Homo sapiens: one gene and its partner. The protein of the gene in region 2 purifies or fractionates together with the protein of the main gene of each other region. This does not show direct contact. Each region holds a gene or a part of one and is shown on either strand. Other genes may lie near its edges.

Region 1 (15,563 bases), on a different chromosome or scaffold from region 2:
TGTTATATTTATGACTTTATTAGGAACCACTGAACAGTTTTCCAAAGTGGTTGTACCATTTTGTATTACCATCTACATTTATACAACCCACCATACGTGAGTTCTTTCTGCTCCTCATCTTGCCAAAACTTGGTACTATTGTTCTCTTCAACTTACTCATTCTGGTGGGGTGCAATGGTTTTGGTATTTTCTTAAACATACTTCTTATTTACTCTTGCTTCATTGATACTGTTATTCTCCCAATAAATTATTCCTAAAATTGTAATGACTACTGAATTCAGAGATGTTGTGAATTACTATTCAGTCAAGAACTTGCTACCAAAGTTCATTTAGTCTTATTTGTCTTCCTTCTCCCTCCATTTCTTTTTTTTTTTTCTTTTTTTGAGACGGAGTCTCGCTCTTTCGCCCAGGCCGGACTGCAGTGGCACTATCTCAGCTCACTGCAAGCTCCGCCTCCTGGGTTCACACCATCCTCCCGCCTCAGCCTCCTGAGTAGCTGGGACTACAGGTGCCCGCCACCGCGCCCGGCTAATTTTTTGTATTTTTAGTGGAGATGGGGTTTCACCGTGTTAGCCAGGATGGTCTCGATCTCCTGACCTCATGATCCGCCCGCCTCGGCCTCCCAAAGTGCTGGGATTACAGGCGTGAGCCACTGCGCCCGGCCCTGCCTCCATTTCTTAAACACCTCCAGGTAAGAATACTTTAATTCATTTACCACTTTGTTCTTATACAAATAAACAAGTTGCCAATTACAAATCTAGCTACTTTGGAATATCCTTCATCTCATTAATACATTACTAGTGTAAGTTTGCTGACAGGATTTGATGTACAATAAAAAAAAATACATCTTCCCTGTAAAGCCTATTCATGACAATAAATCCTTCAAACAATTCCACTTCTAAAAAAAACTAATTTTTCTGTGTAGTATTCAACAATGTTAAATATTTCAAAAAAATGCAATGTTTGTGCAGCTAGCTAACCAACACTTATTTTGCCAACTTGTTATTAAAATCTATCCTAACAATCTGTGTAGCTAGGAAGGGAGCCACAGATGTGACATAATCAAGATTTTCCAGATTACTTTTAATTATGGGACTATTTTGCTCAAATGCTGAACTATCAGGATTTCCAGACTACTGAATGCCAGATAAGTAATGGGACTTTATCATTATTCTGATAAGCCTTTGGATAACAAAGTCAGGTAGCGCTAAACACTCTTCCATCTATTATATTACTAAGGCAGCGCCCAAATGATCCATAAATTACAAATAAACAAGTTGCCAATTACAAATCTAGCTACCTCCATCTCTGTGCCACATCAGACAACTCACAGCATTCAGATCCAATAAACAACCCTTGGCCTGCTAAAAACAATTATAATTAACAGCTGTGGATGAGTGAGTAGTTATAGATTTCTGAAAAACTAGGAATTGTTCCACACAACAGGAAAGGTGTTTGTTTAATCAAAATATTGGGAAAGGCAGAGATCTTAAAAGAAAATATGCAACCCAGCATGATGGCTCAGGCCCTACATCCCAGCACTTTGGGAGGCTGAGGCAGGAGGATCACTTGAGGCCAGGAGTTTCAGACCAGCCTGGACAACATAGCAAGACTGTTTCCACCCCCACCCCGCCTCAGAAAAAGAAATCCAGCACAATCCCCTATCTAAATCCAGTACTAAACCCATATCTTCCATAAAAGGCAGCACGGTGAAAAGAGAATAAAATTCTGAAATCACACTGGGTGTGGTGGCTCACGCCTCAGGTGGCTAGTGTCTGCAATCCTAGCACTGTGGGAGGCCAAGGAGGGCTGACCGCTTGAGCCTAGGAGTTCAAAGCCAGCCTGGGCAACATGGCAAAACTCTGTCTCTAGAAAAAATACAAAAAATTAGTCAGAAGTGTTGGGAGGCGGAGGTTGCAGTGAGCCAAGATTGCACCACTGCACTCCAGCCTGGGTGGCAGAGCAAGACCCTGTCTCAAAAAAAAAAAAAAAGAAAAAAATGAAATCAGACATCACAGCCCCTGGTTCACTTCTGAACTTCCTTACTAACCAGCACTACGACCTGGGCAAATTACCTAATCTGAGTCTCAACTGCCTCATCTGTAGGGAATTATGCCAATTATACACCTATCTCATAGAACCACTATATGAATTATTTTAAGATACTATATGGATTATTTTAAGATACTATATGGATTATTTTAAGATTAAATGAGATAATCCATATAGTGTCTACAACATAAAAAATTTTAGTTCAAATGTCTCCTTTTGCCAGAAAGAATACCGATCACATAGGGAACTTAAGTTATGGCGCTGTGAGGGCCACCTCACTTCTCACCCAAACAAAATTACAAAAATACATGAATTCCCTCTACAACATCTTGGAAATCAAGTCCTGGTCTTTACACTGGAATACACATGTCCGTAGGGGGTACACAAAGATATGCAAGCAAGGGAATCAACTTCCATGCTACTCTCATAAACCTGATCTGTGTGGATAACTAGATGATCAATTTTAAATTTTCAGGCATAAAATTTATTACTTTAGGATGGGTAGGAAAACTACAGCCCTAAACCAGATCTGGTCTGCTACCAATAAAGTTTTATTGGAACACAACTACACAAAAATACTTGCATATTATCTACGGCTATTTTCTGGGTTTTTTTGGGTTTTTTTGAGACAGTCTTGCTCTGTCGTCCAGGCTGGAGTGCAGTGGAGCGATCTCGGCTCACTGCAACCTCCACCTCCCGGGTTCAAGCGATTCTCCTGCCTCAGCCTCCCAAGTAGCTGGGACTACAGGCGCCCACCAACACGCCCGGCTAATTTTTTTTGTATTTTTTAGTAGAGGCGGGGTTTCACTGTGTTAGCCAGGATGGTCTCGATCTCCTGACCTCGTGATCCGCCTGCCTCAGTCTCCCAAAGTGATGGGATTACAGGCGTGAGCCACCGCACCCGGCCACATATTGTCTATGGCTGTTTTCTCACTACAGTGAGAATTAAGCAGTAATCACAGAAACCATGTGGCCCATAAAGCCTTTCATCTGGCCTTTGACAGAAAGTTGACTTTTGCTTTAGGATAAAATTCTGTGGGAAAAGTGGAATGGATACAAGTTCAAAAAGAAAAAGGAAAAATATGTAATGGACAAACTCCCAAAATGATAAAAATGACCAAAACTAACTCAACTAACTATATTAAGAAATTGAATTAGTAAAATCTTCCCAGAGAGAAAAACCCAGGCCCATAGGACTTCACTGGTAAATTCTATGAAACACGTAAGAAATAATACCAATCCTACACAAACTATTTCAGAAAACAGAGGAGGAAGGAACACTTCCCAATTCATTTTATGAGGTCATAATTACCCTGCTACTAAGGCCAAAGATGACATAAAAAAAAGGAAACCTCAGACCAATATCCATCATGAACACAGTCACAAAAATTAACAAAATGTTAGCAAATTGAATCCATCTATATGTAAAAAGTAGTAGATACATTACTAAGCAGGGTTCATTTCACAAATGCAAGATGGGTTTAACATCTGAAAATCAAGTAATGTAATAAGCTATGTTATGTATTTCTTACAGTCTTTGTTTCAAAAGTTTAGTTGTATGTTTTTACAACATCAAATTGATATTGTATTTAGGTAATTTTATATTTATTTTTAAGAAGTCAATATTTACTTGTCAGAAATTACATCCTAAACTATTTAAAATTAAATACTTACACTATGTAAATCTAGGATGAAAAGTTTCAGGTGCCAACTTAAAAGTATATAAGATCTAACAGATTCCACAGTCTTTTAGACATTCTCAAGAAGAAATGTTTTAAGACTAGTGACCCAGCCTATACCTGAAAGCCTGAAATGACAAGGAGAAAAATAATCATTCATGCCAAAGCAACACCACCATATCTTCAAACTTTTGACTTCTGCCCATAAATTTACTCTTAGCACATCTAGATCTAAACCTAATATTCCAGGTACAAGCCTACCAGTGATGCAACCTTTCTCATTCTAGATTTTGCATTTTCCTGATACAATATACTAATGCAGGTCACATCGGTTCTTCTCACAGCCTTCTTAACCACACCACTGATTGGTGATTAAAACATCACATCTTTTTATTATAGAACTCCTGTGAGGTCACATCTCCACCCTCCCCTAATAGGTATAGTTGATTTTGTTTGGACCCAAGCGCAATTTCTCACATTTATACATGCTTCCTTCATTTCATTAAACAGCACTGAGCAAATTATATTGAGATCTTTTCCCATTCTGGCAATCACCAACCAAATGACTCTTTCTTTACTTCACAAAGGCACCAAATCCAATAAGCAAACCTTCTAGATAAGGTCTCAAATACATGAAGTATATAAAGAAAGTGATGAAACCCCAGTTTAGATCACCGGAATTCCAGCTGTAAGTAGTGTCCACAAATCAAACCTCTCCATACATAGATTTTCAAACTCATGACTCCATCTAACTACCACAATCTGGCAAATTCCTCCATCTCGCCCACTCAGTTATAGTAAGACTCAGTAAGACCAGGCGCGGTGGCTCACACCTGTAATCCCAGCACTTTGGGAGGCTGAGGTGAGTGGATCACCTGAGGTCGGGAGTTCGAGACCAGCCCGGCCAACATGGTGAAACCCCATCTCTACTGAAAATACAAAAATTAGCCAGGCGTGGTGGTGCATGCTTGTAGTCCCAGGTACTTGGGAGGCTGAGGCAGGAGAATCGCTTGAACCAGGAGGCAGAGGTTACAGTGAGCAGAAATTGCACCACTGCACTCCGTCCAACCTGGGCAATGGAGTGAGACTCCATCTCAAAAAAAAAAACAAAAACTTCATAAATGCCTTGCTAAAATTCTGACACACTATCATTATGGTCACTACACTCCTTTGAGCCACAATTTGGATGTCCTGTCCTGTTGTTCTGGCTGAATTTAGGAGAACTCTAGTAAGCCCTTCTCTGGATAAGAAAAGAAAAATGATACATCTTCCATTTTGTATTAATTACAGAATCTCACAAATGGCAAGGATTTTAAACATTTTCTAATGTTGTTTTTCTTAGACAGAGTCTTGCTATGTTGCCCAGGCTGGCCTTAAGCAATCCTCCCACCACTGCACTCGGCCCTAGTCTAATATTTTTCTTTTCTTTTCTTTTTTTGAGAAGTTTAGTTCTTGTTGCCCAGGCTGGAGTGCAGTAGCATATCTTGGCTCACTGCAACCTCTCCCTCCCAGGTTCAAGCGTTTCTCCTGCCTCAGCCTCCCAAATAGCTGGGATTATAGGCACCCACCACCACCCAGCTAAGTTTTGTATTTTTAGTACATACGGGGTTTCACCACGTTGCCCAGACTGGTCTCCAACTCCTGACCTCAGGTGATCCACCCGCCTCAGCATCCCAAAGTGCTGGGATTACTGGCGTGAGCCACAGTGCCCGGCCTTAATATTTTTCAAACTATACGTCATGACCTATTAGGGGTCAGACTCAATTTAGTGAGTTGCAACCAATATTTTTTTAGAGTGCATCTTCTGTAGAAAGGGTAAGTAAACTTTTCATTGGTGTGTGTGTGTGTGTACACACTGAGTGTGCAGGGGCACAATAAGTCATGATGTATAATATATCTAACTGTGGGTCACAGGTAAAAAATTTTGAGACACTTTTCTAGCCCCACAGCCCTATGCCAAGGAGGCTCTACCAAGAAATTGGTAATAAACAAAATGTCATGTTTTTACATCATACAGAGAAACTAGCTAAGAGGATTTTGTGCTCAGTACACGTAATCTGCCATTCATTAAAAAAAAAAAAAAAGATTAGGATCCATCTGGGTGTCCAGTTGAAATACTAAACTGCTTGGAGACAGCCATTTCTGTTTTGGTGGGGTGAAGACCTGTATTTGAGACAGCAGACTGAAATCGGTTTGGTCTGTGGCGAAGGAAGAGAAGAAAAACCATTCTGGGTCGCGAGTTCCTCACCTGTAACCACAGGAGAAGACTGTTGGCTTGGTCAGTTGATTTTCAACTAATCTCCCAATTGAAGAGTTAGGCGAAGCAATTGCTATTGGGAGATTAACTGAAAATTAACTGACCAAGCCAACAAGGACTATGCCTCCCACAAACCAAAACACTTTAACCACTCAGCAAGTCAAGTATTGATACATACAATCAATATCACACAAAGTGTACTGAAAAGAACCACAGACTTGCATCAAAGGCAGAAATGAATCCAGGGATAACTTCCTGGGATTCGAAGATGTGACCTGGTAGGTATAAATTTCTCAGGCATCCTCTTTTTCTACCCTCCAGTTCATCTCCGTCCTCAAGCTATCAGTCATGGATGTGGCACTGGCGTTCTTCTCTGCCACCGTATCTCATTATGCAAAGGGAAACTGAGGCACGAAGAACAGAGTGAGTGAGCCAAAGAACTGCAGCAGCCACCAACAAGGCTGGACTAAGGGCCCAAGCAGCTAATGCCTCACTCCCCACACAATCCCCATACTATTTAGAATCCTGCAGTCCTCAGCCTTCCACCTCAAACCAAACTCCTGGGGCCGCCCGTAGTACGTGGTCCCCTGCTCATCCGATGAAGCCCCCAGCTCTTGCCTGCCTGCCTGCCTCTATAAAGGTCTACGAGGCCTGGAACTCTGAAGCCTAAAGCAACCCCGGCAGCCCCCTCCCACGACCGTCCACAAACCAGTAGCCTCCCTTCGCTCCCACCTCCGCGCCGACGGGCCTGGAGCTCCTCCGCACACCACACCAAGCCGACCACTCAACACCAGAGGACCCACAGAAGAATTCTCTCCACGCCCACCCCCACAGCATCGGCCTTCACCACCGCCGCCGCTGCCGGAAGCGCCCCCACGTCTCCACGCCACCACCGTGAGGTCACTTCCGGCGCGACACCTTGGAATCCAGGGCCGTCAATTGAGGGGCGTGGCACCCGGGAAATTTAAGAGGTTGGAAGAACGTCCCTTCGGCCTTACAGAATTGCGCTTGGGTAGTCATTTTGCCCTCCACGCTTACTTATGTCCTGTGGCGTCTTGGCTGGAATCGGGGCTCTACCCACGACTCCCCAGCCTCGATGCCTGGGCCCCCCTCTTGCAGGCTCGATGAAAAGCACCCGCTTCCCCTCCTGTTACCCCAGCGCCAATCGCAGAGCTGGAGCGGAGGACTTTCAGGGAGGCCTGGTGACGTGACAGCCCCTCCGTGCTAAACTGCAGCTGTGGGACTTAATAAGTGCGACAACCCCCTGATGGATTAAAGAAAACAAGATATTCCTGCCGTGGTCGATCTTCAAAGCGTATCAGCTTCAGCCCTTTTGGGGGTTAAAATCAGCCAGTCCGTGCTTGACTGCTCTCCCTTCCCCCATACTCAGTACACAGGAAAGTGCCGCTCTTCTACCCCTGGCATTTTAGAGTCTTGATTTGTGGGGAGACGGGAAAGCATGCGTTTAGGGCCAAGACCGTGTAATGAGGAATATTGCACAGCCTTGAAGCCTGACACCTGGTTTGGGAACCACTACTTGGGCGAATAGCATAGAGTAGGGTAGCAGTTCCAAACCTAGCTCTACAAAATCAGTTGAAGAACTTTGTAAAATCTACACTTTCTAGGGGACTGCTTCACCCTTCCCCCTCCATCACCAGAGATTCCCTAGGTCAGAAGGGGTCCTTGTCTTTTAAAATTACTGTTATTAATGAACACTTATAGAGCAGTTTTTGGTTCAGGGCAAAACTGAACAGAAAGTACAGAGTTCCCATATATCCCCTGTACACACAGGCACATACACAACTTGTCCCCTCATGGACATCTTGTGCTACAGTGGTACATTTGGTAACAATTGATTACCCAACTTTGACACATCATTATCACCCAGAGTCCATAGTTTACATTAGAGTTTACTCTCGGTGTTGCACATTCTGTGGGTTTTGACATATATGTAATGACATGTATCCACCATTATGGTATCATACACGATAGTTTCACTGCCCTGAAAATCCTCTGTCCTCTGCCTATTTATCCTTCTCAGTCCCCTAACCACTGGCAACCACTGCTCCTTTTACTGTCTCCATAGTTTTGCCTTTTCCAGAATCCCATATAGTTGGAATCATACAGTATGCAGCCTTTTCACATCGGATTCTTTCACTTATGCACTTAAAGTTCTTCCATGTCTTTTCATGGCTTGATAGCTCATTTCTTTTTTGTGCTGAATAATAATATTCCATCGTCTGGATGTGCTGCGGTTTATCCATTCACCTACTGAAAGACATCTTGGTGGCCTCCAAGTTTGGGTAATTATGAATAAAGCCGCTATACATCATGTGCAGATTTTTGTGTAGACATGAGTTTTCAATTCATCTGGGTAAATACCAAGGAGTGCAACTGCTGGATTGGATGGTATATTTAGTTTTGGGAGAAACTACCAAACTGCCTTTCAAAGTGGCTGCATCATTTTGCATTCCCACAGCAGTGAATGAGGGTTTCTGTTGCTCCACATCCTTGTCAGCGTTTTGTGGTGTCAGTATTTTGCCGTTCAAGTAAGTGTGTAGTAGTATCTTATTGTTTTAATATGCAATTCCCTAATGACATATGATATTGAACATCTTTTCATATACTTACTTGCCATGTGTATATCTTCTTTGATGAAGTGTTCATTCAGGTATTTTGCCCATTTTTACATTGTGTTATTTTCTTGTTGTGATTTAAGAGTTCTGGGTATATTGTAGATAACAGTCCTCTATCAGATACGTCTTTTATAATATTTTCTCCTAGTCTGTGGCTTGTCTTCTCATTCTTCTTTTGAAGAGCAGAAGTTTTAAATTTTAATGAAGTCCAGCTTATCAATTATATTTTTCACAGATTATGCTATTGGTATTGCCCTAAAGTCATTGCCATTCCCAAGATCAGTTAGGTTTTCTCCTGTGTTGTCTTCCAGGAGTTTTATAGTGTTCCATTTTACATTTAGGTCTACAATCCATTCTGAGTTAATTTTTATGAAGGGTGCAAGGTCTTTGCCTAGATAATTTTTTTTTTTTTTTTGAGACGGAGTCTCACTCTGTTGCCCAGGCTGGAGTGCAGTGGCACGATCTCAGCTCACTGCAATGTCTGCCTCCTGGGTTCAAGTGATTCTCCTGTCTCAGCCTCCCAAGTAGCTGGGATTACAGGCACCCGCCACCACACCTGGCTAGTTTTTGTATTTTTAGTAGAGGCAAGGTTTCACCATGTTGGCCAGGCTGGTCTCGAACTCCTGATCTCAATTGATCTGCCCACCTCGGCCTCTCAAAGTGCTGAGATTACAGGCGTGAGCCACCGTACCCGGCCTGATACATTTTTATGTGTGTGAAAATTCAGTTGTTCCAACATAATTTGTTGAAAAACCTATCTTTGCTCCATTATATTGCTTTAACTCCTCTGTCAAAGATCAGTTGACTACGTTTATGTGGGTCTACTTCTGGATTGTTTATTCTTTCACCAATACCACATTGTCATTATTACTGTAGTTTATAGTAAGTCTTGAAGTTGGGTAGTATCAGTCCTCCAACTTTGTTCTCCTTTAATAGTGAGCTGGCTCTTCTAGGTCTTTTGTATCTCCATATCAATTTTACAATCAGTTTGTCGACATCCACAAAAATAATATGCTGATACTTGGATTGGGATTGCATCGAATCTATAGATCAGGTTTGGAAGAACAGACATTTTGACTATATTTTCTTTCTATCTGTGAACATGAAATATTTCTCAATTTATGTAATTCTTTTATATCTTTGATCAGAGTTTTGTAGTTTTACTCATATAGCTCTTGTATATGTTTTGCTGTATAGATTTATAACCTGATGACTTTTTTTTTTTTTGAGACAAAGTTTCACTCTTGTTGCCCAGGCTGGAGTGCAGTGGCACGATCTCAGCTCACCGCAACCTCTGCCTCCTGGGTTCAAGTGATTCTCCTGCCTCAGCCTCCCGAGTACCTGGGATTACAGGTATGCACCACCACGCCCAGCTAATTTTGTATTTTTAGTAGAGATGGGGCTTCTCCATGTTGGTCAGGCTGGTCTTGAACTCCCGACCTCAGGTGACCTGCCCGCCTCAGCCCCCCAAAGTGCTGGGATTACAAGCGTGAGCCACCCAGCCTACCTTTTGTTTCTCTAAATCTGCTCTTTCTGAAGTTAGTATACCTACTCCTGCTTTCTTTTGATTAGTGTTATCAATGATATATCCTTCTCCACCACTTTACTTTTAATCTATGTATGTCTTTATATTTAAAATGTGTTTCTTGTAGACAACATATTGTTGGGTCTTGTTTTTCATCCATACTGAGAACCTCTGTCTTTTAATTGGTGTATTTAGATGACTGATGCTTAATTAATGATATAGTTGAATTAATGTCTACTATATTTGTTACTGTTTTTTTTTTCATTTTTTGTTGTTGTTGTTTGTTTTTTGAGACACCGTCTCGCTCTGTTACCCAGGCTAGAGTGCAGTGGCATGATCTCAGCTCACCACAACCTCCATCTCCTGAGTTCAAGCGATTCTCCTGCCTCAGCCTCCCGAGTAGCTGAGATTACATGCACATGCCACCACAACTGGCTAATTTTTGTATTTTTAGTAGAAATAGGGTTTCACCATATTGGCCAGGGTGGTCTTGAACTCCTGACATCAAGTGATCCACCAGTCTTGGCCTCCCAAAGTGCTAGGATTATAGGTGTGAGCCACCACACCAGGCCCTTTTTTTGTGTGTGTGTGAGTTGGAGTTTCACCCTGTCACCCAGGCTAGGGTACAGTGGTATGATTGTGGCTCACTGCAGCCTTAAATCCTGGGCTCAAGCAATCCTCCCACTTCCCAAGTGGTGGTACTATAGGTGCCCACCATCACACCTGGCTAAGCTTTTTTTTTTTTTTTTTGAGATGGAGTCTCGCTCTGTCACCCAGGCTGGAGTGCAGTGGTGCCATCTCTACGAAGTGAAACCCCGTCTCAATGCAAGCTCCGCCTCCCGGGTTCATGCCATTCTACTGCCTCAGCCTCCCGAGTAGCTGGAACTACAGGTGCCCGCCACCATGCCTGGCTAATTTTTTGTATTTTTAGTAGAGATGGGGTTTCACCGTGTTAGCCAGGATGGTCTCGATCGCCTGACCTCGTGATCTGCCCACCTCAGCCTCCCAAAGTGCTGGGATTACAGGCGTGAGCCACTGCGCCCAGCCTGCTAAGCTTTTTTATTTGTTTGTTTGTTTTGTAGAGACAGAGTCTCACTATGTTGCCCAGGCTGCTTTTCAATTCTTGGTGTTAAGTGATCCTCCTGCCTCAGCCTCCAAAAGTATTGAAATTGCGGTGTGAGCCATGGCACCTGGCCTTGTTACTATTTTCTGTTTGTTACCCTTATTTTTTATCTGTATTTGTCTTCTACACATTTTCTGCCTTTGGGGTGTGTGTGTGTGTGTGTGTGTGTGTGTGTGTGTGTGTGTGTTTATGTGTGTTTGAGATGGAGTCTTGCTCTTGTTCCCCAGGCTGGAGTGCAGTGGTGCCATCTCAGCTCACTGCAACCTCTGCCTCCCAGGTTCAAGCGATTCTCCTGCCTCAGCCTCCCAAGCAGCCGGGACTACAGGCATGTGCCACCACACCTGGCTAATTTTTGTATTTTTAGTAGAGATGGGGTTTTGCCATGTTGGCCAGGCTGATCTCAAACTCCTGACCTCAGGTGATCCACCCGCTTCAGCCTCCTAAATTGCTGGGATTACAGGCGTGAGCCACCACACCCAGCCACCTTTTGGGGTTTTAATTAAGAATTTTTATGATTCTCTTTTCTCACCTATATTAACATACCAATTATTCTTTTCTTTTTTTTTTTGTTTTAGTGGTTGCCCAAGAATTTGCAAATATGCAATTTACATTTTCAAATAATCCAATTCAACTTTCAAATAACACTATACTACCTCATGAACAGTGCAGGTACCTTATAATAACAAAATATTCCTAATTCTTCCCTCTTGTCCCTGCTATCATTGTTGTCATTCATGCCACTTATACATAAGCATATATTATTAACTTTACCAGCATTTCTTAGTTTTCACCTTAGGTGGGACAGGATGGCTAAAGAGGCTAAAGTTGGGTATTTTTCTTTCCACAGCAAGGTTAGGCTTTAATAAAACCCCAGTAGGTTAGGCTCCTACCACTTCAGGCCTTACTCCCAGAGACTCTGATTCGCCTAGTCTGGGGTACAAGCCAGGGATCTGTATTTTAAAAAGCTCCTCAGATTAGCTGGGTGTGGGGGCTCACACCTGTAGTCCCAGCTACTTGGGGGACTGAGGCAGGAAGATAGCTTTAGCCTAGAAGGCGGAAGTTACAGTGAGCTGAAATCATGCCACTGCACTCCAGCCTGGGCGACAGAGTGAGACCCTGTCTTAAAAAAAAAAAAAAAAAGAGCTCCTCACAGAATTCAGATGCTTATGGCCAGAAGCAGAAGACCACACTTTTGGAGCTGCACCAAGCTCTTTGCTTAACATTACAAGGGAAAGCCTCATATCACCACCATTCCCTCCTCAAGACTCTCAATACCACCCCATGCCCCATTCACGCAAAAAAATCTGGAGGTTCATTGCTCCAATGTCTAATTTGGTTCTTTCCTTCCCCACCTTTTTCCCTGGGCTCTTATCACTCCCACACTAATGCATATCTAGTTTTACACAAGAGGATGTTTTCGCAACAGAATCTAGAACTTGGGGTGTTTGTTAATTATACAACAAATTCAAATTAAAGATCAACATCATACAGAATTAGGGACACGTGGGTCATGCTATGACATATTCCAGATACCTGTCTTTTCAACAATCACCAGCAATAGTGTGTTAACATTGAATACAAGTTGGGACAAGAAATATACATCATGTGCCTGGAACATCTTGTCATACAAGACAGCAAATAAACCATCACACTACAAGATTTTTGTCAAGAGCTCACTGTAACCTCCGCCTCCCAGGTTCAAGTGATTCTCCCACCTCAGCCTCCCAAGTAGCTGGGACTACAGGCACACGCCATCACACCCTGCTAATTTTTGTATTTTTTCGTAGAGACAGGCTTTCACCATGTTGGCCAGGCTGGTCTCAACCTCCTGACCTCAAGCGATCCACCATCCACTGGGATTACAGGCGTGAGCCACCTCGCACGGCCTGTGTAATTCTATTTATATGACATTCTGGAAAGGGCAAAACTATAGGAACAGAAAACATCAGTGTTTGCCTGGGGTAGAAAATGGGAGGGTATGACTGTAAAGGATTTGGCGAGAGGGTTGGAGGAGTGGTAGAACTAAATCTTGATTATATGCATTTGCAAAACTCATGGAAATGTATACCTGGAAGAATAGATCTGGAGCTCAGGAAAGAAAGATGAGGTTTGGAAGTCAATTACCAGGCAATAATTAAAGTCCCAATAATGGGCACTATAGTCCAGGGATAGCATATAGCATGAGAAGAGTCAACAGCTAAGGACAGAACCCTGAGGAACACCGACATTTAAGGGATACGCACAGGACGAGGTCTATTCAAGGGCAACTGAGAAGCAGCAGCTAGGAACATAGAGGAAAATCCAGCAGTGGGTGATGCCAAAGAGACCAAGAGGATCTTTAAGAGAAGTCAACAGTGCTAAATATTCCAAAGAGCTCAAATCAGAGGAAGACTGAAAATGTACATTAGATTTAGCAACTAGGAGGTCCTTGGTGATTTTGACAGAGGTTTTAAATCGGAGTAAAGGCCCCAGAAGTCAAATGCCAGTGGTTTGAGGAGAGAACGGGAGGTAAGCAAGTGGAAGCACTGAGCGCAGTGGCTCACCCCTATAATCCCAGCATTTTGGGAGGCCAAGGCAGATGGATCACCTGAGGTCAGGAGTTTGAGACTAGCCTGGCCAACATGGTGAAACCCCATATCTACTAAAAATACAAAAATTAGCTAGGCGTGGTGGCGTGCACCTGTAGTTCCAGCTACTTGGGAGGCTGAGGCAGGAGAATCACTTGAACCTGGAAGGCAGAGGTTGCAGTGAACCGAGATTATGCCACTGCACTCCAGCCTGGGCGACAGAGCAAGACTCCATCTCAAAAAAAAAAAAAAAGTAATTATCTACTTCACCCCATGTGTATAGCTGAAAGCTTAGCAAGTTAATGCTGAATCTGACATTAGAACTCAGGTCTCTTATTACATATATGTAGGGGAAACATATGTTCCAGTTTGGATGGAATAGTCCCTGTTCATGCCTGTTACCTTATTGTAATTATTAATACCACCTGCTTTTATTCTCAAATACATTGAGAAAAATTTGATTAAAGGTGATAACTTTCTATAGTCAGCCTACTTATATGGCATAGGCTTTGAGGCTGGCAAGCATTCTTGGTTACTTAAGATCATTTTTCTTTTATATTATCTCAAAGATTTAAGTCTCTTACATTCTCAAATGTCACTTTATAAATGAAGTAATGCACATACATAAAAGCAGGCCCCAGACTATAAAGTGCTAAACAAAGGTTAGGATTAAAAAGAATAATAACCTTTTAGGCAACAGTTTCTTAAATGTAACACCAAAAGCACAAGCAAAGCAAGAAAAAAATAAACTGTACTTCATCAAAATTAAAAACTTTTGTGCATTAAGAGATATATCAAGAAAGTGAAAAGACAACCTACGGAATGGTAGAAAATATTTACAAATAATATATCTGATAACGGTCTGGTATTCAGAGTATGTAAAGAACTTTCTTTTGGTCAATAAAGGGTTTAAAAAATAAAAACAAGAAATAACAAAAAAGAACTCTCAACAACAAAAAGATAAACAACTCAATCTTAAAATGAGCAAAGTACTTAATAGACATGTCTCCAAAGAAGATACACAAATGGCCAACAAGTACATAAAATGACACTGAACATCAGTAGTCATTAGGGAAATGAAAATGAAAACCACAATGAAGCCAGGCACTGTGGCTCATGTCTGTAATCCCATCACTTAGGGAGGATGAGGCAGGAGGATGGCTTAAAGCCAGAAGTTCAAGGCCAGCCTGGGCAACAAAGTGAGACCCTGTCTCTACAAAAACAAAAAATTGGCCTGTGGGCCAGGTGGGGTGGCTCACGCCTGTAATCCCAGCACTTTCGGAGGCTGAGGCAGGCGGATCACTTGGGGTCAGGAGTTGAAGACCAGCCTGGCCAACATGGTGAAACCCCATCCCTACTAAAAATACAAAAATATGCTGGGCATGGTGGCGCGTGCCTGTATTCCCAGCTACTTGGGAGGCTGAGGCACGAGAATCGCTTGAACATGGAAGGCAGAGATTACAGTGAGCCAAGATCGTGCCACTGCCCTCCAGCCTGGGCAACAGAGCGAGACTCTGTCTCAAAAAAAAAAAATTTATCCTGTGCAGTGATGTGCACCTATAGGCCCACTTACTTGGGAGGCTGAGGCAGGAAGATCCCTTGAACCCAAGAGTTCGAGGTTGCAGTGAGCTATGTTTATGCCACTGCACTCCAGCCTGGGTGACAGAGGGAGACCCAGTCTCTAAAATGAAACACAGCCAAAAAAAAAAAAAAAGGCCCAAAAC
Region 2 (15,874 bases):
CCCCTACTAGAAAATGAACAGTTTCTGGCACCTGACTTCAGACTCCCAGAATTACCAAGTATTTCTGCGGACTATGTAACAATAATAAACTGTTTCCAAGGCTCCAAGTACTGGCAACATCACTAAATAGGGCAACAAAAAGAAACTGTGGCTTGAAGTTTCACTAGATCTTTGTCATTTTAGATAGTAATTTTGTGAATTGCTAGATTTAGATCCCCAAGTAATGCAAGAAATCAAATAAAGCACCCCGCAAGTATTTTATCCATCACACAAAGCTCTTCCACTCTCTCCAATAAGGTAATAGTTTATGACTATGTGACTAACATCAAGAAGTAGATAAATTATGCCAATGAGCCAGACTTAGCAGATGATTAAAGAAATCTGTTAACAATTTACTTGTTTTTCTATTCTTCCACCAATCTCTTGATTTTAAGAACAACTTATTTTAAAGGCAAGTGGCTTATATAATCGTTCTTCATAAAGTCTCTTTTCCCAGTGCAGTAGCAACCTGGTTTCCATTTGAATGATTATCCAGGTAAGCTAACTAAATGTAAGAATTTATTTTTTATAAGAATTTCATTCATTTTAGCCTATTTAGGCATCCTACTCACTTATAGACGTAGGTGCAAACACAACTGGAACTATTCCATAAAATATTCATACATGTCACCACTGTGTAATTTCTTCCTACACCCTGAATGGAGGCTTCCTTTAAACTTTAAATGAAAATTATAATTGAGCTTGAGTCACAAAGAGTTTACCTCCCCAATAATGTTAATTATGTCACTAGATTTCATCCTCTTGCATCCCTACTCACTGAAATTCTTCAAGATTTCTTAATGTGAGGCAGGATAATTTAATTTTATAGGGAAATGCAATTGTGAACATGGAAAAGCATTATTTGGAGGTATACCCAAGATACTTCTACAAGAACAATAAGCTAAAATGCTAAATCATTTCCATTTACTCACTAACTAAACAACCTTTCATACCAGGAGCTCAGAGTCTGGAGGTGAAGGGGAAGGTGAAGACAGACAATAAACACATATGCAAATAAGCAAAGAAGATTAAGTGTAAGTCATGATCAGTGCTGAGAAGAAAATAAATTCAGAGCTGTGACACAGACTACAAACTGCAACAAACTGCAGAAACAAACTGCAACACAGATCATCTATAAACATACATAGCAGATTGACATCAAAGCCTTTCTAGGTTGCCTTTATGACTTCTTGACATATGCTTAGGTTCCGAGGATCAAAGCCCCTCAAACTTACCTGTTTCACTTTCTAGAACTAAAGCTAGTCTGTGACATCTCTAGCAGAAAATAAGGCACATCGACCATTTCACAGCACCTCTGCAATTAGGCTTTTGATTATGTGGTGTGATAACTTATCCACACTGAAACATTTTCAAAAGAGAAAACAGATTATTATTATTATTTTGTGTTTTTTTTTTTTTTGAGACAGAGTCTCGCTCTGTTGCCCAGGCTAGAGTACAGTGGTGTGATCTTGGCTCACTCTAACCTCCGCCTTTCAGGTTCAAGCAATTCTCCTGCCTCAGCCTCTCAAGTAGCTGGGATTACAGACATGCACCAGCACGCCCAGATAATTTTTGTATTTTTAGTAGAGACGGGGTTTCGCCATGTTGGCCAGACTGGTCTCGAGCTTCTGACTTCAGGTGATTCGCCTGCCTCAGCTTCCTGAAGTGCTGGGATTACAGGCTATCATTGTTATTTTTTAAGACAAGGTCTTGTTCTATGTTTCAGGCTGGAGTGCAGTGGCATGATCACAGCTCCTCTTGGGCTCAAGCAATCCCCCTGCCTCAGCCTCCCAAGTGGCTGGGACGACAGACATGCATGCCACCATGCTTGGCTAATGCACTTTTTAAAATTTTTTGTAGAAATGGAGTCTCCCTGTATTGCCGAGGCTGGTTTTGAACTCCTGGGCTCAAGCAATACCCCGGCCTTGACCTTTTGGAAATGTTGGGATTACAGGCCTGAGTCACCCTGCCCAGCCGGGATGTTTTTAATAATTATGCCAGAGCAGGCACAAACAAGGACTTTCCACCAGGGCAAACTAGGCCATATGGTTACCCTAATTATATACCACATCAAATGTAAATAGCCAAAAATTTCAAGAGTAGTTTATAGTTCCAGATATATTTAAATTATAATATCCAAGCCCTAAATTATAATATGGACAATATAAACCAAGTGAATCCCTTACTAAATATAAAGCTCTGAATATCTCACATTGTACACAAAATCAATTTCAGATGCATTATAAACGTCAATGTGAAAAAGCAAAGCACAAAAAGGTTTAAAGATAATCAAAGTATCTCTATGATGTTTTAAAAAAAGAAACACTAGCCATAAAAAACTGATGAACATGTTTACATTAAAATGAAGAACTTCTGTTAATTTAAAGAAACTACTAAATGGAAAAAATGTTTGCAATATATACATCCAACAATGGAGATATATTCAGAATACAGAACTCTAGAAAAAGACGTGTTTCGATTTAAAAAAGGAAAAGATTTCAAAGGCATTTTATGAAAAATGAAATCCAAACACCCAGATATGAAAAGCTGGTCAGCCCCATTTAGTAATGAGGGAAATGATTAAAACTAAATACAACTACATACCCACCAGGATTGGCTAGAATTGAAATATATGATACCACGTACGGTTGTTGGTAAGGGATATGAAACAAGAACTCTTACATACTAATAAATGAAGTAAAAACCACTAAACAACTACTTTGAAAAACTACCTGGCATTACCTGATAAAGACCAACATTCCCCATGTTCTTGCAATTCAAATTCTAAGTATATAATCTCAAGAAAACGAAATAAACATGCACCAGTGCACTTAAACAGAAATGTTCATAAAAGCATTGTTTATAATAGCCCCAAACTGCAAACAATCTAAATGCAATATCCAAAACAATGGCAGAAGGAATAAACTTGTGTTATATTCATGATGGAATATTATGAAACAATAAAAGCTAAAAATAAAATATATACAACACAATCCTATTTACATAAAGTTAAAAATGGGCAAAATTAAACTCTATTATTTAGAGATGTAAACTTATATGGTAAAACTATAAATGTCAGAAGAACATTTATATCTAGCTTAAATTAAGATGGTGATAGTTGTGATGGGAAAATATAGGTGGTGGGAGGCTTCTGGGATGCTGGCAATGTCTGTCTTGCCCTGGGTGGTGGTTACAAAGATGTTTGTTTAAAAATATTTCATTTTTATCTTATGTATCTTTTCAGCCTGTGTAGTTAGGTTTCCCAATAACACTCTCCCTGAGAAATTAAAAAAAAAAAAGTTCAAAAGAGAATGCTAAGACTGTTACTCAAAGAGATTAACTCTTAATCCATAGTTTAAAAACAGTAACAGGGATCTCTACATCCAAATACACACTGTATTATAAATTCCATGAATAAACTTTTGGCTTCAGGCCGGGTGCAGTGCCTCACACCTGTAATCCCAGCACTTTGGGAGGCCAAGGTGGGTGGATCATCTGAGGTCAGGAGTTTGAGACCAGCCTGGCCAACATGGTGAAACCCCGTCTCTACTCAAAATACAAAAATTAGCCAGCTGTGTTGGGCGCCTGTAGTCCCAGCTACTCGGAAGGCTGTGGCAGAACTGCTTGAACCCGGGAGGTGGAGGCTGCAGCGAGCCAAGATCGCACCACTGCACTCCAGCCTGGGCAAGAGCAAGACTCTGTCTCAAAACAACAACAAAAAAAAACGAAAACAAAACAAAACAAACACTTTTGGCTTTAATCTTTTAGACTACCATTCTTCGTTCAAATTTTGAAATGGAAGGTGAAATTTTCTGATATCGAATTACTCAACAAGTCATGTAAATTTTAAAATTTTAAGATTGAACTCCTTGCTTCTAATCTTGAAATCTGAAATGTGTCCAGTATTGACTAGACAGTTATAATGTAGTTTTCGATTAGATAATATCATGTAGACTAATATATAAAGGTTTGATAATGTCAGTTTTTGCGAACATAATCAAATTCCCCAAACTGGTTACACATTTAACTCATGTTGCTTAAGAAAAAGCAGCCGGGTGCGGTGGCTCATGCCTGTAATCCCGGCATTCTGGGAGGCTGAGGCAGGTGGATCACTTGAGGTCAGGAGTTCAAGACCAGCCTGGCCAATATGGTGAAAGCCTGTCTCAACTAAAAAATACAAAAATTAGCCAAGCGTGGTGGCACGCGCCAGTAATCCCAGCTACTCAGGAGGCTGAGGCAGGAGAATTGCTTGAACTTGGAAGGCAGAGGTTACAGGGAGCCAGGATTGTGCCACTGCACTCCGGCCTGGGCAACAGAGTGAGACGCCATCTCAAAAAGAAAAAAAAAAAAGAAAAAGAAAAAGCATATAATGATGTGGGATGAAATATCAAAGCCATGAGTACAAACATAAATTCAATGATTAAAAAAATTTTTCACTGCTATATTCATATATTTATCAAGTCATGACACAAAGAACAAATTTATATTTTATGTCATTATGTCATATGAATTTAACTATTACAGACTAATGAAATACTGACTCTAAAAGCTGCTGAAAAGTTTTTTAAAATGTGGGTTGTTAAAATGTAGACTTTTGGGGTTCCTGCATAAAAGGATATGTTCGTAGTTTTTAAAAAAGAACAAAAATACTTTAAAATTTTCAAATGTATTTTTTTTCTTTGTGAGGAATAAAGGTAACACAGCCAACTTATTGAGTCACTAAGCTGGCAAGACACTTTTAAATTCAGATTAGGTAAAGCAATACTTTAAAACAAATTTATTAAACCACTTTAATGAGAAATTATTTTCAACCCATATCTGGCTCTCACCCAGCACTTTTCATAATTTCATAAAGAGAGGCTTTTTCATAATTTCAAAAAGCCAGAAAAACACTATACAGCTAAGTAACTATTGTATAAAAAATATAAAAATAAATTCAAAATAAGGCCAAGCAAAAACTAAGTTACTTAAGAAGCATCACTGGGAAAGTCTTTAATAAACACCAAATACCATCCATCATACATCCTATAGCCGATTTCTAACCGCCAAGTCTACAGGTGTTTTAATGAGGTAATGTGTCACTGCATAATGTTTCACAAGGTGAAGAGGGAAATGTGGGGGTACTCCCTGGTTTTTCATACTACTTTTAAAATTAGACTTGGTGATTTTAAAAAGTGTATAATTCAATGATCTTCAGCAAATTTGCAGAGTTGTGCAACTATCACCATCTCATACTACTCCTTTATGGTGTACAGTTCTGTAACATCAAAAGGTTCCCTACCCAGGTATAAGATTTGTCCCAACACCAGGGCTATTAAAAAGATTTACCAGAGGCTGGGCGCGGTGGCTCATGCCTGTAATCCCAGCACTTTGGGTGGCCGAGGCGGGTGGATCACCTGAGGTCAGGAGTTCGAGACCAGCCTGGCCAACATGGTGAAACCCCGTCTCTACTAAAAATACCAAATTAGCTAGGGGTGGTGGCAGGCGCCTATAATCCCAGCTACTTGGGAGGCTGAGGCAGGAGAATCACTTGAACCCGGGAGGCGGACGTTGCAGTGAGCCGAAATCATTGCCTTTGCACTCCAGCCTGAGCAAAAAGAGCTAAACTCCATCTTAGAAAAATAAATAAATAAATAAATAAATAAAGGATTTACCAGAGCATCCAAGAAATATTATTAAATACTTGATCCCGTGAAACCACTCCCCTATCTGTTAACGATTTTTAAAATTTTACAGATTTCGAAAATCTTCTTCTTTATCCTTGGACCTAACCTATCCACAGGGTCCCTAACCATGCTATGCAGTTCCCACCTCTACCAGAAGTGCTGGGAAAATCACCTAGGTTATCTAGCTTCCCTCAAAGTATTTTACACTGTTGTGAGATTTCCTTTAAGATTCAGGAGCTAAAGTTTATTTTCTTTCTGGTTTCCTGGCGGAGCAAAGGCCCTGCACGTGTGAACGGAAACAAAACCCACACAGACTCTAGGGATGCCAAATATTAACACTGTGGGTAGGGGCACCTTCCTTCTCGGCCGAATTCCCTTTCCCAGAGAGCCTCCAGAGGGATCAGTCAACGCCCACTGAGCCTGGATCAAAGGTCAAGCTTGCCTGGTCAAGAAGGATCCTGGATCAAGCTTGAACCCGTTTCCAGAAACAGGGGCGTCGGGGCAGCAGCAAGCATTTTTACCACGCGCCCTAATGAGGTGGTTGCACAACAGGCTTTGAGGATTCCGGTTTAACAGGTAAATACCAACAGAGGATGAGCCGAGGGAGATGGGATCTGCTCCACGGCATCGATGGCATTTCGAGAATGTCTGCGTCGCAGAGCAAACCCAAAGTTTTAGCACATTACTCAAGAGTTCACCAGAGGAAGATCGCCACGAATTGAAATGAACAAAGTGAGAAAATGGGTGCTGTGTAGTCAACGCATCCGCGATGAACTCAAGCTGGGCGGAAAAATTCTTTGAATACTCCGGCTTTGTTTTGTGCTAAGACGGCAGAAGCCCCGAATTTCGGAGTTGGAAGACGCGTTTCTCCGTGTTCTCCGGCCCGTTCTCGGACTTCAGGGCCGCCCGCCGCGCACTCAGTCCCGTAGTTCCCCGGGCTTCAGGCGCGGACATTCCGGGGGGCGGAAACCAGGGAGCCGCGGGGAGGCCGCGGTCCGGCCCGCGACGCCGGGGCCCGGAGAAGGGAGGCGAGAGGCCTCCCGGAGCTCGACGGAGGGAGGGGAGGGAACGAGGAGGCCGCGGGCCGGAGCGGGGAGCAGCCCCGAGCGGCGCCCGGCTCGGCCCCCACCCTGAGGCCCGGTCCCGCGTACCTTTGGCAAGGGCTACGGTGGAGTTTTCGGTGTCGATGGTGTAGAGGATGCCCTCGTAGCGGATCTCCGCCTTGGAGATGAGGCTGATCTTGCTGCCGATGTAAGGGGTGCCCCCGCTCATGGCGCCGCCGCCGCCGCTCCCAGCTGCTCGCAGAGAGGCAGATCCCACGCCACTGTCGCCCGCTCCGCACGCCCGCTCGCTCCGTCGGCGCCTACAGCAGCCGCTTCAGACCCAACATGGCGGCGGCGCCGGCTCCGCTACCCTCCCCCAGCCTCCCGCCCTCAAGCCGCGGCGCGGCGGCGGCGGCGGCGGCGGCAGCGGCGGCGGCGCGGGGCATGCTGGGAGGGCGAGGCCGCGCTCTCGCGAGACTTGGCCGGCTACTGGTGGCTCCCGGCTCATTCGTGGCCTCGGGAGTCCCGGCAGCGCTTGTTGGCCTGGACTACGGTGGTGGTCTTGGGGCCGCGTGAGAGGAACTTCGGGGACCGGCTGAGTGCCTCGTGGCACCCGCTTGCTGCGGGCTGGAGAGGAGGCGCGCGGCCTTCCTTTTGACTCAGGCCGTGGCCGCCTTGTCGTGGGTCCTGTGTCTTTGCCGACGCGGGGCCCTCGGCCTGGAGCGCTGCCCACCCGCCTCCGAGCTGTGGCGAGCCGCTGCTCATCCTTCTAAGACGCTGAACCTGCACCTCGTGGAGCTCCTACGGCTCCATTACCGCAGTCATCGCCCGGGGAGCTTCCCCCGAGGCTGCCCCTGGAGCTGGGGCTCTCACAAGGACTCAAGTGTTTCAGCCCCTTCCTGTCCCGCTCATTCAGCCGGTCTGAACCAGTTTCATGGCTTGCAACGCCATTGTAACTCACTAATCCCAATTATCAGTATGTAGCTTGGATCAATTCCGTGAACCAGGGTTTCTGTCGAATCTCAAACGTTAAGGGTCCAAAGCCATGCTCCCTGTTTCCCCTCTAACCTGCTCCTTCACCACCGTTCCCTATTTGATGTAAACGGTACCATTTTTACTCAGCTGCTCAGACTAAAAGCCGTGAGTCAGCCTTGCCCTGTCTTGCTTCCACATCTGTTCTGACTACACCTCTCCGTTATGTATACACAATATATCCTAAATCTGACTTCTCATCTCCATTCCTACACTTCTCCCACAAGCCACGATTACTCGGGCTGAATTATTGCAGTAGCCTTCTAAAAGTTGCCTCTGTGTCAACTCTTGCCCCCAGTACTTTATTCTCAATACAGCAGCCAGAGAGATCTTCTTAAAATCTAACTCAGGGCTGGGCGCAGTGGCTCACGCCTGTACTCCCAGTACTTTGGGGGCCCGAGGCGGGCGCATCACCGGTCAGGAGTTCGAGACCAGCCTGGCCAACATGGTGAAACCCCGTCTCTACTAAAAATATAAAAAAATTAGCCAGGCGTGGTGGCGCGCGCCTATAGTCTCAGCTACTTGGGAGGCTGAGGCAGGAGAATTGCTTGAACCCAGGAGGCGGAGGTTGTGGTGAGCCGAGATTGTGCCACTGCACTCCAGCCTGGGCGACAGAGCGAGACTCCGTCTCAAAAAAAAAAAAAAAAATCTAACTCAGATCATGTCCTTCCTCTACTCACTCTACTGATCCCATGTTACACAGAGAGAAAACCAGACTTTGGTGTCTAAGGATATACATGATTTAGCTTCTCGTTCTGTTCCAGTCGCGTCTAATTCAACCAGTACTTGAGCACTTTATTCCAGTCTCTGCTCAAGCATCACCTCCAGAGATGACGTCCCTGACAGCCTTGTTTAAAATAATACCACTCATCTCCTTAACTCAGCTTGTATTTTCTTTATAGCATGTATCTCTCTCAAGTATGTCTGTTTAATTATTTGTATGTATCTGTCTCCTTCACTAGAATGTAAACATTTTGAGATAGTGATGTTGTTTTGGTTGCTGCCGTATCATCAGGGGCCTAGTAACAGCACGTGGCTCAGGGCAGCTGCTCAGTTAATATTTGCTGCATGAATGAACAGCAGGATGAAGGCAGAGCACAGGCAGGACGGTGAGCTGAGTGAGCAAATGGCGAGAAGCCTGGCATCATAAGAGAGGGACACAGGAGAGAGACAGAGCTCTGATGGGGCTGGTGCACAGTGGCTACAAAGAAAGGTTTGGAAATCCCTGTTTCAGTACAAGGTCCATGCGAGGAAGTTGAATTATTTGTTTTTGTTTTTTTGAGACAGTCTCACTCTGTCACTCGGGATGGAGTGCAATGGTGCCATCTCGGCTCACTGCAACCTCTGTCTCCTCTGTTCAAGCGATTCTCCTGCCTCAGCCTCCCGAGTAGCTGGGATTACAGGCGCATGCCACCACGCCTGACTGATTTTTTGTATTTTTAGTAGAGATGGGTTTCACCATGTTGGCCAGGCTGGTCTTGAACTCCTGGCCTCAAGTGTTCACCTGCCTTGGCCTCCCAAAGTGCTGGGATTACAGGCGTGAGCCACCGTGCCCGGAAATTCTTTCAAGGCTAAATAATATCCCTTTGTATGGACATACCATATTTTGTTTATCCATTTATCAGTTGATGAACATTTGGGTTGTTTTCACTTCTGCTATTATAAATATCCATGAGTACCTCTATGAACAAGTTTTTGTGGGAACATGTGTTTTCAATCCTCCTAAGAATGAAGTAGTTGAGCCATATGGTAACTCAGAGTTTAACTTTTTGAGGAACTGTCAAACTGTTTTCCAAAGCAGCTACACTATTTTACATTTCCACTGGCAATTGTATGAGGGCTCCAATTTTCTCCACAGCCTCACCAACACCTATTATTGTCTATCTTTTTTTGTTTGTTTGTTTGAGACGGTGTTTCGCTCTTGTTGCTCAGGCTGGAGTGCAGTGGCGTGATCTTGGCTCACCGCAACCTCCGCCTCCCGGGTTCAAGAGATTCTCCAGCCTCAGCCTCCCTAGTAGCTGGGATTACAGGCATGCACCACCAAGCCCGGCTAATTTTGTATTTTTAGTAGAGTGGGGGTTTCTCCATGTTGGTCAGGCTGGTCTCAAACTCCCGACCTCAGGTGATCCGCCCTCCTTGGCCTCCCAAAGTGGTGGGATTACAGGCGTGAGCCACCGCACCCCGCCATTTGTGTATCTTTTTGAGACAGGGTGCCACTCTGTCATCCAGGCTGGAATGCAGTGGCCCTATCATGGCTCACTGCAACCTTCCTGGGCTCAAGCAATCCTCCACCTCAGCCTCCCAGGTAGCTGGGACCACAGGTGCAAACCACCATGCCCAGATAATTTTTGTATTTTTTTGTAGAGACAGGGCCTTGCCATGTTGCCCAGGTTGGTCTCAAATGCCTGGACTCAAGTGATCCTCTCGCCTTGGCTTCCCAGAGTGCTGGAATTACAGGCGTTGAGCCCCACACCCAGCTAAACACTTTTAAATTGGGCAATTTTTCTTTTTATTGTTGAGTGGCAAGAGTTCTTTTATATATTCTAGATACAAGTCCCTAATCAGATCTATAATTTGTAAATAGTCTCTCTTATTCAGCGGATTGGTTGTCTTTTCACTTTCTTGATAGTGTCCTTTGAAGCACAAAAGTTTTTAATTTTTATAAAGTCCAGTTTATTCATTTTTGTTGTTGTTGTTGTTTGCACTTTTGGTGTCATATGCAATAAAGCATTGCCTAATCCAGGATACAAATATTTACCCATAATGTTTGCTTCTAAGTTTTATGTGTTAGCTCTTACATTTAGGTCTTTGATTTATTTTGAGCCAATTTTTGTCTATGGTATGAGGGGGACTTCAAATCTTGCCTGAAATAGAGATGGGATTAAGAAGCTTTCAGATCAAACAGGAGATGGAGTGATTACAGGAGGAAGAGTGAGATGCATTCTGGAAAGTAAGCAATTCAGTGTGGCCACAGCCTAAAGAATGCAGAGTATATTAGGAGTTATAGTGGATAGCAGTGGCCACACCAAAGGTGGTGAGGGTTGAGGGCTTTGTTTCTCCCATATTGTCCAACAGCCATCCCCTAGCCTCATAAAGTAAAGACAAATATAAGGAAAAAACAGTGTACTAGCTGGGAATTGCTTTGGACAAGCCTCGCAAATCCTCCAGATCTTCTTTCTTACCCCATAGCTCCTCAAGTGTAGAAATTCTAGAGCTTCTACTGCTGAAAACATGAATGGGGAAGAATTTAGTTTTTCTGCAGGTTGCCGGGAGCTCTTAAGCAGGGAAGCAACAATGGATTTTGGATCTTTAGGAAGCCTGCGATGGTCATAAAATGTGTCACGGTTCTCAACCTTGTTTCTAGTACATGAAACGGAGATTAATGTGCATATTACACTAGGGGCTACCAACTGATCAGCTGCATTATACATAGTTCCTGCCGCCCTAGGGTGCAGGAAACCATGAGTTGCAAAACATAAAGTAGAATCTAACAGATTGGTGACTGATTGGGTGTAGCCAGATAAGGACTCCTAGTTCCAGGACTGAACACCTAGGTCAGTCCTAGGGCTAGTGATGAGCATAAGGAGAACGGATAAAAGGAAGTTTATTTGGGGGGAGGATGGAAATACTAATAGATGCAAATAATTTTGCACTTGTTGAGCTGGAAGTGCCTGTTGGGACACCAAGCAATTGCGTCTATTTCATAATTGGTATGACCCTAAAAGTCAGGAGATCTGAAATGGAGGTGTACATTTGGAAATTGTTACAGATGGAAAAAGGATAAGCTCACTGTCAGTGGCTCATGCCTGTAATTCCAGCTACTCGAGAGGCACTGCAGCCTGGGCGACAGAGCGAGACTCTGTCTCAAAAAAAAAAAAAAAAAAAAAAAAAAAAGAAACACCAAGAACAGGCAAATCCACAGAGGCAGAAAATATTAGTAGATTAGTGGCTGCAAGGGGCTGGGACATGGGGGTGAGGAGTAGGAATGGGAAGTCACTACCAAGGGGCGCAGGGTTTCTTTCTGGGGTGATAAAAATGTCTGGAAGTAGGATGGGCACAGGGGCTTGTGCCTGTAATCCCAGCACTTTCGGAGACCGAGGCTGGTGGATCGCCTTAGGTCAGGAGGTCAAGACTAGCCTGGCCAACATGGTGAAACCCCGTCTCTACTAAAAACACAAAAAAATTAGTCAGGCGTGGTGGCGCACGCCTGTAATCCCAGTTACTTGGGAGGCTGAGGCAGGAGAATAGCTTGAATCCGGGAGGCGGAGGCTGCTGTGAGCCAAGATAGTGCCATTACACTCCAGTCTGGACAACAAGAGTGAAACTCCATCTCAAAAAGGGAAAGAAAAAAGAAAATGTCTGGAAGTATATAATGATAATGGTTGCATGGCTTTGTGGATATACGAAAACCCACTAAATTGTATACTTTAAAAAGTGAACTTAGGGCCGGGCGCGGTGGCTCAAGCCTGTGATCCCAGCACTTTGGGAGGCTGAGGTGGGCAGATCACGAGGTCAGGAGTTCGAGACCAACGTGACCAACGTAGTACTAAAAATACAAAAAAAATTAGCTGGGCGTGGTGGCGGGCGTCTGTAATCCCAGCTCCTCAGGAGGCTGAGGCAGGAGAATTGCTTGAACTTGGGAGGCAGAGGTTGCAGTGAGCCGAGATCACGCCACTGCACTCCAGTCTGGGCGACAGAGCAAGACTCCATCGCAAAAAAAAAAAAAAAAAAAAAAAAAGAGTGAATTTTATGATATGTGAATTCTATCTCAAAAAGGCAAACTTTCCATGTAAAATGGCCCTATTAAAAACTAAGTTTATGTAGCAAAAACAGGCACTTGCTTTTGAAATAATATGTAAGTAAAAAAGCTGAATACAGAATTGTGTGAGTATAAAGACTTTCTTAAAAGGAAAAAAAACAAACAACATATGAAAATAAAGGAGGAAAGCAGTAATTTCCAAATGCTATGGTACCATGGTATTAGATAAAATTTTTTGTTTGTTTGTTTGTTTTTTGAGATGGAGTCTCGCTGTGTCGCCCAGGCTGGATGGAGTGCAGTGGCGCGATCTCGGCTCACTGCAAGCTCCACCTCCTGGGTTCACGCCATTCTCCTGCCTCAGCCTCCCAAGTAGCTGGGACTACAGGTGCTCGCCACCATGCCCAGCTAATTTTTTGTATTTTTAGTAGAGAAGGGATTTCACCGTGTTAACGAGGATGGTCTCAATCTCCTGACGTCGTGATCCGCCCGTCTCGGCCTCCCAAAGTGCTGGGATTACAGGCGTGAGCCACCATGCCCGGCCTAGATATAAACTTTTAAGGTAAGTTTTTGTCTCTGTATTAGTTAGGAGATGTGTTCTGTTTATAGGAACCACCCCCAAATTCAGTGACTTAAAACAATTATCACTTTATTATACCTCTCAATTTCATGGATCAGGCTTGACTAAGCAATTCAGTTCCGTGTAGCCTCAACTGGAATCATTGAGGGCAGCTTGCCTGGTCTAGAGGGTCCAAGATGGCTTTACTCACTTATCTGACTATTTCACAGGATCAGCTAGAAGTCCAGGAATTTTGTGACACTATTTGTGGCAGTGTTATTTTGAGTCTCTCCTGACCAGCAAACACATATCCTAAATGATGCAAAAGGCAAAGATATCTAACATCTACTGGTATTGTATACTTTGTAAAGTACACAAAGTCTACTTTGTGCTTGGTATTGGGTCAGTCATCTTACACACATTGGAGGAGACACATCTTACACAGGTTGAATTTTTTTCTTTTTGAGACAGGGTCTCACTCTATGGCCCAGGCTGGGGTGCAGTGGCATGATCTCGGCTCATTGCAACCTACACCTCCTGGGTTCAAGCGATTCTCGTGCTTCAGCCTCCCAAGTAGCTGGGATTACAGGCATGCACCACCACACCCACCTAATTTTTGTATTTTTAGTAGAGACGGGTTTTCACCATGTTGGCCAGGCTGGTCTGGAGCTCCTGACCTCAAGTGATCCACATGCCTCGGCCTCCCAAAGTGCTGGGATTACAGGCACTTTGGGAGGCCAGTCCACAGGTTGAGTTCTAAAGCCATGTGTGTCTGTTGGTTCTTCTCAGAATTAGATGCTGAGCCAGAGTTAAGAGGTTTATTGGAGGTAATGCCTGAGAAAGGTAAAACGGAGAAGAAGCAGGATTGAGCAGGGAGAGCCCCAGACCGTACTGCAGATCTGACAACGTCTTGGCCAACCCAACAGGAAGCCCTGGAGTGAAGATGGCTCTTTGGAACAGAAATGGTTAGGCCCTAGTACCCCTGTTGTGTTCTGTCGTTGGCTGGGGTTGTCTGGGAGGAGCGTGGCCTTGGATTGAAAGAGGAAGTAGATCCTGTTGGCTAACTTCACTTCTTGGAACAGCACGATTAGTTCTTTCTGGAAACCAGTAAAAATTAGATATAGTGACTGGGCGTGGTGGCCTATGCCTGCAATCCCAGCACTTTGGGAGGCCGAGGCAGGCAGATCACTTGAGGTCAGGAGTTCAAGACCAGCCTGGCCAACACAATGAGATACTGTAAAAATACAAAAAATTAGCAGGGCATGGTGGCACACACCTGTTATCCCAGTTACTCAGGAGGCTGAGGCCCGAGAATCACTTGAACCTGGGAAGCAGGGAGCTGCAGGGAGCCGAGATGGCGCCACTGCACTCCAGCCTGGGTGACAGAGCCAGACTCCGTTTCAAACAAACAAACAAACAAACAAACAAACAAAATGTATATATGGTAAACAATACTCCAAAGTCTTATCCTGAGATTGCATCTCACCTTAGTGTTAGTACACTTGATCCCCAGATTAATGGATTTCTCTCTTTTTTAATTTTTTGAGACAGGCTTTTGCTCTGTCACCCAGGATGGAGTATAGGGTGCGAGCGCAGCCCACTGTAGCCTCAACCTCCTGGGCTCAGGGGATCCTCCCACCTCAGCGCCCCCAAGTAGCTGGGACCACAGGTGCACACCACCACGTCCAGCTATCTTTTTAAAGAGAGTGTATTTTTCTGTTGAAAATCTGCATCTTGTTGGCTTGGCACAGTGGCTCATGCTTGTAATCCCAGCACTTTGGGAGGCCAAGACAGGTGGATCACCTGAAGTCAGGAGTTCAGGACCAGCCTGGCCAACACAGTGAAACCCCATCTCTACTAAAAATACCAAAATTAGCTGGGTGTGGTGGCAGGAACCTGTAATCCTAGCTACTGGGGAGACTGAGGCAGGAGAATTGCTTGAACCCGGGAGGTGGAGGTTGCAGTGAGCCGAGATCATGCCATTGCACTCCTGTCTGGGCGACAAGAGTGAAATTCTGTCTCCAAAAAAAAAAAAAAAATCTTCATCTTCTTATCATTTTGTCTATTTTATGCTCTAATTTCATTAACATATTTATAGTAATTATCATAAAGTCCTTATCTGTGAGTTCCAGCATCTCAATCATATAAGAATCTGCATGTATTGTTTTTTCTCTTGATTATGCATCACATTTTCCTGCTTCTTTGCATCTCATAATTTTTAATTTTATGCCAGATATTGTGTCTAGCTAGATACTGTATTCTAGACATTGTAAAGAACCAAAGTGACGGAAGTAAATATTTTTTTCCCTGGAGAGGGCAAGCCCTTTCCTCTTGCCAGTCAATTAGGATGAGGAGCTTGATCAGTCAGATCCAATCAACAGTGGAGCTGAATTGGGGTTGGATGAATTGCAGATTTAGTTAGTTTTTGTTCACCTGGATTTTAAATGTCTTAAGGGCAAGATGTGATCTGCGTGTCTTGTGGGCCCCTTCTTCTAGTGGAATTTTGGACCTGAGCATGAAGAATTAGTGGAGTTTTCTGTCTGTCTTTCAATGAGGAAGACAGAAGACCCAGCCTCCTGCACTGTAACCCACTTAGCAAAAATGGAAGACTAGCACTGTGTTTTGAGTTCTTAGATATTTCCATCTGTTGCTCCAGCCCGTAGAGATGTTTAAAGAATCAGTGGTTTCTTCTTAGCCAAGGAGAGCCCCATCCTCTGTGGCAGGGCCCATCCTCTGCCTGCCCATGCCCAGACTTGGCAAATGCCCCCAATGATCCCTA

Evidence for each region.
Region 1: the proteins of LSM14A (region 2) and EDC3 purify together in Homo sapiens (affinity purification with mass spectrometry; 2 studies listed by BioGRID). This does not show direct contact.

What each region holds. Positions count from the first base shown.
Region 1 is NC_000015.10:74,689,160-74,704,722, forward strand, and holds the start of EDC3 (enhancer of mRNA-decapping protein 3), read right to left. Parts: upstream 6,866-15,563; 5' UTR 6,721-6,865; intron 6,657-6,720; exon of another isoform or gene 6,207-6,656; intron 3,860-6,206; exon of another isoform or gene 3,727-3,859; intron 1-3,726. UniProt on the Homo sapiens protein: Binds single-stranded RNA. Involved in the process of mRNA degradation and in the positive regulation of mRNA decapping. May play a role in spermiogenesis and oogenesis.
Region 2 is NC_000019.10:34,163,746-34,179,619, reverse strand, and holds the start of LSM14A (protein LSM14 homolog A), read right to left. Parts: upstream 7,117-15,874; 5' UTR 6,978-7,116; coding exon 6,857-6,977; exon of another isoform or gene 6,148-6,856; intron 1-6,147. UniProt on the Homo sapiens protein: Essential for formation of P-bodies, cytoplasmic structures that provide storage sites for translationally inactive mRNAs and protect them from degradation. Acts as a repressor of mRNA translation. May play a role in mitotic spindle assembly.